Linked DNA regions of Homo sapiens: region 2 is linked to region 1. The links come from fine-mapping of genetic effects on gene expression. A gene starts in region 1. The other region holds a variant in brackets. All regions are shown on one strand. Distances are from middle to middle.

Region 1 (5,354 bases):
GGACATCACTCCAGGGCAGCTTCCTACCTCAGTGGTGTCTCTGGGGCTGTGAGCACCACAGAGGTCCGTGGGCACTGCCTGCTCCGGGGGCCCCAGACCTGAATCAGGCCCGTCGGTTGCTTGCTGGCCAGCGGCCCTGCCTGCGTTTGTTTTCACTGCTCATCCCACAGGCCCCAGGTCTGGGCTTGTGACCCCAGGGGCGAGTGAACGATCCCAGCTTTGCCTGTGGACTTGCTTGCTGTCTGCCCCTCAGGACCCCTGCCCGGCCTCCCCCAAGCTCCTAGGACCGAGGCGGGCAGCATGGCGGCAGGGGTGTACCGATCTGGTGTGGGGAGTAGGTGAGGCAGCCAGTGGTGAAGATGAGGTACTTGCTCTTGGCGCCTGTGGCACTGCGCTCGGGTGGCTTGGTGTGGCCCTGGGCCAGCAGCTCGGCCACCTTGGTCTCTAGCATGCGCTCCGACAGCTGTGGCTGCGCCCGCCCCTCCAGCACGCGGTCCAGAAAGTGCCGCAAGCCCTCCTTGGCGTGGGCGGGGGCCGGGCCAGCCACCACCTCCTCGTTGTCGCTGCCCAGGTCAAAGATGCGGCAGGGGGACGTGGCCGGGTCACCGGCTTCCAGCAGCAGGTCAGGGCTGTCGAAGCGGCTGCAGTCGGCCACCATCACCGTGCGGACGGTGCTGGCATTGAGGTTCTGGATCTTGAACAGCCGCTTCACCACGTTGACGTTCTCTGACTCCACATCCTGGGGGCGGGGGCACGTGCCAGGTGGGCGCCGGGCGCCAGGCCCCAGGAGGGCAGCCCCGCCCCTAGCCCCGCACGCACCTGGAAGGCATTGTTGAGCCACAGCACCGAGCAGGAGGTGATATCTCCGATGCGGTGCAGGTTCCCCGAGATGAGGCTGGTCTCGGTGAGCCAACAGCCAAACACGTCATAGGGCTTGTTCCGCACGCGGGACAGCAGCGCGAAGGAGTCTGTGGGGAGGCCGGGGCTGGACAGGCTGTCGGCGTGGGGCGGGGGCAGGGTCAACCCGCCGCCCGTGCTCACCTAGGCTGATGACAGCAATCTCGCCGGATGAGGAGTTGTGCGGCCCCAGGAACACCCCCGAGGCCAGCAGTAGCGAGTCGTCCTTGTTGAACTGGGAGAACTGGGTGTAGCTCCAGTTGTAGGGCCGCATGTCCGCGCTGTGCAGCAGCGAGATGGTCAGGTCGTTGCTCCAGATCTGTTCGGCAGGGGCGGCTGTAGTGATCGCCTGGCCAGGTCGCGGGGCGGGGGCCTGCTACTACACAGCCATGAGGCCCCAGCTCTGCCAGCCCTACTCAGAGGCCACCAGGGAGCAGGGACCCCTTCCAGCCACTGTCATCCACTCGGGGGGCATTGGTATAGAGCGGAGGAGCCTGCCCCTGAAGCAGGCGGCTGTGTGTGGGACCCTCTCCTCAGCACTCAGGGCCACCCTGCACCGCTCCTGATCCTCTGTGGTCCCTCCGCTGGATGCAGGGAGGCTGCTGTCACCTCTGGCCTGACCCACCCCCCCCCCCACCACCACCTGGTTGGAACGCCTGGGTCCTGGGACCTCCGTGCTGCGGCAGAGCTGGGTGGGGTGTGCAGGACACCTGGCCGTCCTCACCTTCACAGTGCAGTCCTTGGAGCAGGACGCGAACTGGTACCCGGAATGGGAGAAGCTGAGGTGCAGGACCTGGTCTGTGTGTTCCCGCAGCGTCTGCACCTCCACGCAGGGCACCGTGTCATACAGCCGCTGGAACTCCTCGTACCAGGACATGGCCGCTGCGGGTGGGCAGTTGTCAGTCCTGGGCCCGGGCCTTCCTCGCAGTCACGGCCATGAGCCGAGTGTGGCCCCAGCAGTCCTGGCAGGCCCCGTGGTGCCCCTGGAACCCACTAGTCATGGCATAGGCCTCGGCTGGGGGATTCAACCCTGTAGCTCACAGAGACCCCTGTACCCCCCACCCCCCAAGTGACCCAATGAACCCTCTGGCCTCCAAGCTCTGAGGGGCGCCTGCGCTGTGTCCTGACAGGCCTCTATCAGGGTGTGGGGGGGTGAGCATGGACACGCGGGGCCGCGGGGCGGGCCCCCAGCCAGGCTGACCCCCAAGCGCAGGGGCCCGGGGCCCTGGCTGCAGAACGTGGGTAGGGGCCCCACACGCCACTGACCTGGGTGTCGGGGCACGTCGCGGGCCACCTGGTAGTAGCGGTAGAACTGCTCCCTCCACAGGAACTCGTCCCGCGACACGGCCTGCCATTGGCGGCACACCAGCCCGGCGGCCAGCACGTCGGCCGGGCCCAGGCTCAGGAAGATCTGGTAGACCAGGCTGTCGGGGAGCAGGGGCGTGCCGCCCTCGTCCATCGTGACATTCTGCCCAGGCGGCCCTGAAACCCACCAACGGCTGCCCTCAGCCCAGGCCCGGGAAGGGAGGCCGAGAGCGGGCGTCCTGTTCCTCCAGCCCCAACCGTCCCGCCGGGAGTTCCACGGGGCTGCGTGTCTGCAGGGGACGCCCGGGTACCGCCGCCCAACCAAGGACCCGGCAGCTCCGGGCGGGCCGGGCCGGCCCCTCTCCGCCGCGTCATCCCCCGGCCTCCTGCGGCCGGCAGCGGGCGCCCCTCAGCCCGCCAGGGCCCGGACCGCCGCACGCGAGGCACGGGGACACCAGGCGCCGTCCGGGGACGGGCTTCCGCCGAGAGGAAGCTCGGGGCGGCCAGGCAGTGGCCTCCGCCCTGCGGCCCTGGAGCAGCTCTGCCCGGCGGGCTCGGGGCGGACGGCGGGGACGAGCGCACGGGCGGCCTCGGGGCTCCTGCACTCGCCCAAGGCGGGCGGGGACGACAAGGCGGGACCCCCGAGGGCCGCAGGCGCACTCACCACGGCCGCCTCCGCCCGCTGCGCCGCCCCCGCCCTGCGCGACCCGGACCCGCTTCCGCTGCCGCAGCCGCTCGGACCGCCGCCCCCGCCCAACGGGGAGCCCGCCAGGCCCGACGCCACGAGCCCCGAGGCATCGATGGCCGAGGAAGGCAGAGCGCGCGGGTAGCCCGCATCCGCCCCTCGTGCGCCTGCGCCTTGGGCTCCGGCGGCCTGGCCGGCTTTTCTTTGTGCGCCTGCGCGCACTCGGGCGCATTGGGAACAGCGCCCCTTGTGGCCAGCGGGCGGCGGTCGTGGGCGGGGTTGCAGGCGAGGCTCAACGAACGCTGGTTCGGGACCCGCCTCCGGCGCTCCCTGTTGCCGGGCCCTGAGCAAGTGGCTTCATGAACCCCGTGACGTTGGCCATGGAGATAAGACCACTGGGTGATGGTTTAAGGAAGATAACGTGTAAAGGGCTAAGGACTGTCGGTGGAAATCAGGGGTGCAGGAGAAATGGATAAACAGCCAGAGGTCAACTCGGACTTTGTACATAGGACATGGTGCCAGGGCCCTGCCAGGAAGTGCAGATCGAAGCTAGGCTCACGAGGAGGCTGGAGGTGGGGGGTGGGGAGGCAACGGATGGACATGGACTTCCTGGGCTGGGCTCTGTGACAGCAGAGTAGACTCTGTCCTGGGACTTGGTGGTGCTACCCTTGGCCTCCCACAGTCCTGCCACCCTGCTGCCGCCACCATGCTGCCCCCTGGGACTGCGACCCTCTTGACTCTGCTCCTGGCAGCTGGCTCGCTGGGCCAGAAGCCTCAGAGGCCACGCCGGCCCGCATCCCCCATCAGCACCATCCAGCCCAAGGCCAATTTTGATGCTCAGCAGGTAGAAGTTGGGGGGGGTAGAGGGAGGCAGGTAGAAGTTGTGGGAGGGGTAGAGGGAGACAGGTAGAAGTTGTTGCGGGGGAGAGGGAAGCAGGTGAAGTTGTGGGGGGTGTAGAGGGAAGCAGGTGAGGGGCCCTCCCACAGTGCCCTCGAGTTCTCCCATGGTCTGCCCCCAGTTTGCAGGGACCTGGCTCCTTGTGGCTGTGGGCTCCGCTTGCCGTTTCCTGCAGGAGCAGGGCCACCGGGCCGAGGCCACCACACTGCATGTGGCTCCCCAGGGCACAGCCATGGCTGTCAGTACCTTCCGAAAGCTGTGAGTCCCAGAGCAGCCCTGCACCCTAACCCCAACCCTCCTCTCAGCCCCCGGACTTCAGCCCTGCTCTGGCCCCTGACCCCACCCCGGCTGTGGCCTGGACTAGGATTCCTGGTTGGGGTCTCCCAGCCTGTGGTGCCTCCTCCCCGCCCCCCCAGGGATGGGATCTGCTGGCAGGTGCGCCAGCTCTATGGAGACACAGGGGTCCTCGGCCGCTTCCTGCTTCAAGGTGAGGCAGGGGCTGCAGGGCATGTGGGTGGGGGATGACGCAGCCACTGTGGCTCTCTGACATGGCTACTGTGGCTCTGCCCCAGCCCGAGACGCCCGAGGGGCTGTGCACGTGGTTGTCGCTGAGACCGACTACCAGAGTTTCGCTGTCCTGTACCTGGAGCGGGCGGGGCAGCTGTCAGTGAAGCTCTACGGTATGTGGGGGCCAGCCTCTGTGACCAGGCAGGCGCTCAAGCTCTGCACACTCACTGGGCCACCCCGAGGGGCTGGGTGAGCCCATGGGGACACACTTCCTTTCTCCCATCCTGATCCTCCTGCTAAGCAGGGGCCCAGGGAGTAGTGACAGACAGGCCTGGTGTGGGAGCAGGGAGAGGGCCCCGAGGGGGCAGGGGACACACAGACCCCGTTTCCAGAGCCCTCCACGCCGCCTGGTGCCAGGACCCCAGGAACCCTGTCTGCCCTGCAGCCCGCTCGCTCCCTGTGAGCGACTCGGTCCTGAGTGGGTTTGAGCAGCGGGTCCAGGAGGCCCACCTGACTGAGGACCAGATCTTCTACTTCCCCAAGTACGGTGAGTGTCCCCAGCAGGTCCCCAGCTCAGCCACCCCCACTCTCTGGGCTGATGTCCAGCCTGACCCCTGCCTTGGGCCCCCAGGCTTCTGCGAGGCTGCAGACCAGTTCCACGTCCTGGACGGTGAGTGCACAGCGGGGCAAGCATGGCGGCGTGGTGAGGGGGGCCACTGCCACCGGCTGAGTCTCGTCTCTGCTGCAGAAGTGAGGAGGTGAGGCCGGCACACAGCTCCAGTGCTGAGAAGTCAGTGCCCCGAGAGACGACCCCACCAGTGGGGTGCCCGCTGCCTGTCCTCCGTGAAACCAGCCTCAGATCAGGGCCCTGCCACCCAGGGCAGGGGATCTTCTGCCGGCTGCCCCAGAGGACAGTGGGTGGAGTGGTACCTACTTATTAAATGTCTCAGACCCCTCTCTGACTCTTCTGTCCACTCTGGACCGGCGCCAGTACCACCAAGGCCCTCTCTGCCCCCACCCCGCCTCTTTAAAAGCCCGGCGCTCCCTGTTGGCTGGAGTCCA
Region 2 (5,354 bases), 27 kb after region 1:
GCAGGGTGGGTGCCAGCAGCCTCAGCACAGACACACTCCGTCCCACCCACCACCAGCGCTCTGGAGCCTGCCCCGGGCCAGGGAACAGCTTGGCCTGATCCTGCTGACGCCTCAGGGCAGGACAGGGCAGGGAGGCTCCAGGCGGCCACCCATGCTGGGCACACAGTGGACTCTCGCACGGTGTCTTCTGCCGTCACACCCTGACCCAGGGCTGGCCGGGAGCCTTCGGGGCGACAGCTCCGAGGATGGACGTAGGGGTACGAGGGCAGGGACCCGGGCTTTGGGAATCAGAGCTGAGGCCTGGGGCCTCCCTGGGAGCTGGTGGTCTCTGCGGGTGCCCACCCTCAGCCCACATTTCCACCCCGCTTCCCCTCCCAAGGTTGAGACCAGGGAATGGTGGGCACCAGTGGAAGGCACGCTCCTCAATCTTTGCTGGGCTGAGTCCAAGGAGGGCCCCCTGCCTCCCCAGCCCAGCCTCCCTCTGCCCTGCCTCGCCCCTTAGCCCCGCTGCTGAGGAGGGAGAGGGGCAAAATCTCACCCTTCCTGCACTTGGAGAAAAAGAGGTTGCTTGTCCTGGGGTGGGGGCCAGCAGGGGACCTCGTTACTAGGGGGTCCCAGCCCAGACCCTCACCCACCCCCTTCCCCACCCCCATCCTCACCCCCTGCCAGGCCAGCTGCTGCCCCAGAGTCCTGCCCCCTGCAGCCCTGTGTGGAGCCCTGGGACTCCTGTGGGTGGGCCTCACCCTGCTGGGGACGGTCCAGCCACAGCGCCAGGGCCCCCAGAGGGGCCTGAACTTGCCTTTCCACAAGATCTGTCTCCAGCCTGGCCTCAGAAAGGAGCGGGTGAGTGGCCTCCAGGATGGGGAAGGAGGAAGGAGGGTGCAGCTGGGCCGATGGGCCTGACTGCCACAGTGAGCATGGCCCTCATGGCCCTGGAGAACCCTGCCAGGTGGGAAGAGCTCACGCCCTCTGTGCAGGTGGAGAAAGTGAGGCTCAGGAAGGCTGCCCACCCACTGGCCAGGGTCACCCATCCCTGTCAGATCCGGACTCCTGCCAGAGTCACGGGTGCCAGCCCAGCCTGGAACCCCTGCCTGGGGAGGGGGTCCTGGCCCTGCCCACTGCCAGCCCCTGCAGTTCTGGGGGAGTGGTGCGTCCTGGGGCTGGCGGTCAACACTTTCAGGCCGGAGCGCAGGTCCCAATTCAGGATGTTGGTGGCAGCCGTGGTCATGTCCAGCCTGCTCACCTGAGGCTGGGTGCCCAGAGCCCCTGCCGGGTGATGGGACTGCCCGGGGAGGGGAGACGGAGGGCTGTGGGGTGGAGACCCTTCATACAGACAGGCAGGTGGGTGGACCCCGTGGGTGGAAGGAGGCAGCGCCTGCCTTGAGGGAGCTCACCCACACCCTCAGCACAGCTGTGGGGCCCCTGCTTCTCCCCCGGGGCCTGCAGTTTGGAGGAGGAGCCTGTCCTGAGACCCAGGGGCAGGGGAAGATCAGGGCAGGGTGCAGGGCCCAGGGACATGGTGGCTGTGGCTGGGACATCCCAATTCCATGCATCCAGTGAGAACTTCCACGGGGAGGGGACGTGGTCAGAGGCGGGGACAGGCAGGCTGCCAGGAAGAGCAGCCTCAGGAAGAGTGGGGAGCAGGACCCTCCGGGAGGCCAGGAAGCCTCCCCTCCCCAGCTCATCCGACCTGCCCCTCCCCAAAGCCTTCACCCCAGCCTCTCCCCACCACAACCTCCTCCCACAGGGACCCACCCTGCAAACGCTGGGCCAGGACCCCTGTCCCGGAGAAGCAGCCAGCTCAGAACCCCCTTGGAGGCCGGGAGGGTGAGTCTTCCCTGCCTGACACCCCAAGAAAGGCCCAGAACTGCCCCAGGTTAAGGTCACTCCACATCTGTAATCCCAGCATTTAGGGAGGCCGAGGCAGGAGGATCAACTGGGGCCAAGAGTTCGGGACCAGGCTGGGCAACATGGGGAGAGCCCATCTCTACAAAAATAAAATTGAAAAATTAGCTGGGTGTGGTGGTGCATGCCTGTAGTCCCAGCTACTTGGGAGGCTAAGGAGGGAGGATTGCTTGGGCCCAGGAGGCTGCATTGAGCTGTGACCGTGCCACTGCACTCCAGCCTGGGCGACAAAGCAAGACCCTGACTCGAAAAACATAAATAAATTAAAATGGACACTCCAGGGAAGGTCTTGGTGTGGCCCCAGAGGGGGCATGATCAGCAGCCTGTCCCCAGCAGTAGGGTCCTGAGCCCTGCCTGACCCGCCTGCTCCGTGCAGAAGTGGGGTTGGAAAATGACGAGATGGAGGCTACGCCGAGACCAAGCGCCAGGAGAAGGGACCCAGGCCAAGCTGCTCGGTGAGGCCCTGAGCACGGCGGGAAGGGGCCATGCAGGACCCCCTGAGGGCTGGGCTGGGGAGGGAGGGGTCTCCCCAGGGCTCACCCCCCTTCTTGGCACAGGGCAGGGGAAGGAGCTGGATTTAGACCTGAGGGAGAAATTTATCAGATTTGACCAGATCCTGGGCATCAGCCTTGACCACATTCCCTTCCTGCCCCAGACTGGCCCCGGCAGGCCTTGGGGGTGTGGGGTAGGCAAGCAGAGACCACACTGATGCGGGGAGGTTGGCCCAGAGCCCTGCAGGCCAAAGCCTGGGGCCGGGCAGCAGTGTCCGCCGAGGAGAGGGTGTCTGGTGCCTGAATGACACAACCTGAGAGGCACCAGCCCCAATCCTGTCCGTGCAGCCCAGCGGGGAGGACTGCCCAGGAGACCATAGGGGTCCGGAGGTCAAGGCCAGGTGCCAGAGGGTCCTGGCAGGACCCGGGGTCACTGGAGGCACCCCACGTACACGGCAGGCGGAGGGGACGGCAGTGCCGGAGGAGGGGCTGCAGGGAAGCCCTTGTCAGCCCCCATTTCTGACCCAAGGGCCTTGGCCGGGAAGGCCAAGCTTGAGGCAAGAGGGTTCTGAGCTGGAAGAGGCCAGGCCCCCCAGACGCAGGGGCCCCGTGGGAAGAGGGAGGCCATGAGCTGAGGCCACAGCAGCTGAGGCTCTGAGAGCTGAGAGTGAGCTGGGGCCCTGC[C/T]GGAGCCTCGCTACCAACTGCTCCAGGTGTGGGGGACACTGCGGGGCCCAAACCTGGACACACCTGCGGCCTGGAGTGTCCCCCCCACCCAACCCAGGGCCTCTGAGGGTCTCTGCCCAAGCTCCTGGGTCCCCTGTACTGGGCCACCTGCAGCTCCCAAGGCAGCCCTGGGGGCAGGCAGGAGCCCCCGGGTCAGAGGTCGTGCGACCCTGGCCTTGGACCCTTGGGCCTCTGACCAGCACTCCTGCCTCACAGAAGAGCCCGTGGTGAGCCACGAGTGTGACTGCCAGGGGTCCTGGGGGTCCCGGGCCACTCTGGGATCCACGAGGCCCTCCTTCCTCCTGGCCCTGGCACCCCCTCCACCCCTCTCTCTCCTGCAGGTCTCTGCTTCTCCCTCCTCTCACTCTAGCCCCTCCGTGATTCTCTGCCTGGGCCGGCCACCCTCTGTCCTGAGGACGCTGGAGCCTGGCCCGGCCCTTGGCAGCCCCACCCTCACCGCCCATCCCAGCCTCGCTGGTGCCCCCTCCACGTGGGAGGCTCAGCCACACCTGCCCCCACGACCCCATCAGAAATAAACAGTCTGTGCCAGGAGAAGCCGGATCCGACTGTCCTTGAGCACTGGGTGATGGGTGGGCAGGGCCTCGGGGAGCAGCCCAGGTTCCAGGCCCAGGAGGAGCTGAGCTCGGACATTTGTCCTCATCTAACCCCCAGTGGCTGCCTCCCTCCCAGCTGGGTGCTCTCCTGGCCCGTCCCACGCTCTCTGGTGAACAGAGCCAGATTCATCCTCAAACATAGGCCACCCTCCATGGCGCCCAGCAGAAACTGCCCTAGGCTGGAGGGCTGGGACCGTGGGGTGACAGAGGCTGCGGAGGCCTGTGACCAAGGGTCCCTGCCCAGCTCCACAGCACCTGGCAGCCCTTGCCCCTGCTAGGAGCGCCCTTTCCTCACCGCTGGCTCTTCTCAGATCTGTGGCCCCATCCCCCTGGGTTGCCTCAAAGGAACCCCAGAGTGAGAGGCAGGAGCCCCCATCTCAGGGGCGTGGGCCCAGGCTCCCTGTGTGCCACCCCACGTTCCCCCGATGGGAGGCAGGAGTCCCTGAAGATCCAGGCCCAGCCCTGACCGGGGGTGGGCACAGAGGTGGGGAGCAGCCTCTGGGATCGGGTCTCCACCTGTGCCCTGCCGGAGCCAGCCCCTGCGCTGAATGGTACTTCCGGCTTCTGGTCTCTGTGGGGAGCGGTGCCCAGCCTGGTGCTACAGTGACCCAGGGGTCCTTAGGCGAGGCCCTCCCAGGCTTGGCCCCTGCCCAGACCCTGCCCTCCTGGGGAGCTCCCGCCCAGCCCCTAAATGGGTGAGGTGGGGACACTTTAGCCCTGACCTTCCATGGCCGAGCTGGGCGCTTCCTGAAGCCAGACTGGGCCTCAGAGGTCCACTGCACCGGGATCCTGGAGCTGAGCTTCTCGAGGCCAGGGGTGTGGGTGTGGTGTCGGGTGTGGGTGCGGGTGTGGTGTTGGGGGTTGGGCCGCCCCCTCCTCCCGGCCCTGCTACCTTTGGGATGCGGCAGCCTCTGACCAGCCTGCTGGACCCCACATTGGACAGATCGTTCAGCACCCCCAAATTGCCATCTGTCCCCCACAGACAGCCAGCCTAGCCCTGGCTCCAAAGCTGCAGAATTGGCTGAGGCTTGGCCATAACCGTCTTTGGACCCCATGGCCAGCAATGCACATATGAGCCTCAAGTCCCAGGGACATATCTGCTCCCCTATCCTCTGGCTTGTCCCGGGCTGCCCTGTCCTCTGCGCCGTCCCCGGCTGCTGGGCGGGCCTGACCTCCAGGGTGGTGCTGGGAGAGGTGGCCAGAGGCAGCCAGAAAGGGTGAGCGGAGAGGTGGCCGTCCCCCATGTCAGTGAACACCCAAACAGACAGGCACAGAGAGGAGGGCTGGGTGAAGAGTGGGTCCCATGTGCTTTGAGCAGCTCAGAGATGCCCTGAGGAGGGGCTGTCCCACGTGGCCCGTCCACTCAGGCCTCCTTCAATCACAGAGCAGCTCCCTTGACGCAGGGAGGCCTTGGGGAGAATTTCTTGCCCCTAGAGGAGCCCTGAGCTGCCCCCACCGCACCCGGCCCTGGTCTCCCCGGCTACAATCTCAGGGGTGCTCCTGCTCTGCCCCTGACTTGTCCAGAACACTCCACAGCGTCTCAGTGATCCCGGGCACTGCCCTTCCCTATGGAAGATCCTCAGCGGGGCAGCTCTGGCAGGAGTGAGCCTCTGGGGCCGTG

The links. PIP is the estimated chance that this variant, and not a neighbour inherited with it, causes the effect. A credible set is the group of variants that fine-mapping cannot tell apart.
Region 2: its variant is the best candidate, but not a certain one, in a credible set for the expression of FBXW5 in whole blood (TOPMed, PIP 0.87).

The regions. Positions count from the first base shown.
Region 1 is chr9:136,941,728-136,947,081 of GRCh38, forward strand. It overlaps FBXW5 (F-box and WD repeat domain containing 5), which reads right to left and starts at 3,011. Exons shown (of 9, transcript NM_018998.4): 1 at 2,867-3,011; 2 at 2,164-2,379; 3 at 1,622-1,779; 4 at 1,042-1,216; 5 at 820-968; 6 at 319-739. The coding sequence starts at 2,356. It overlaps C8G (complement C8 gamma chain), which reads left to right and starts at 3,516. Exons shown (of 7, transcript NM_000606.3): 1 at 3,516-3,731; 2 at 3,907-4,043; 3 at 4,202-4,272; 4 at 4,358-4,465; 5 at 4,738-4,839; 6 at 4,924-4,962; 7 at 5,041-5,248. The coding sequence starts at 3,594. The coding sequence ends at 5,054. RefSeq lists an enhancer at 1,424-2,189 and silencers at 2,025-2,094, 2,475-3,054.
Region 2 is chr9:136,969,217-136,974,570 of GRCh38, forward strand. LINC02692 (long intergenic non-protein coding RNA 2692) reads left to right here and starts at 196. Exons shown (of 5, transcript NR_157392.1): 1 at 196-257; 2 at 670-843; 3 at 1,748-1,827; 4 at 2,282-2,360; 5 at 3,461-3,668. The variant C/T (reference allele first, on the strand shown) is at 3,081.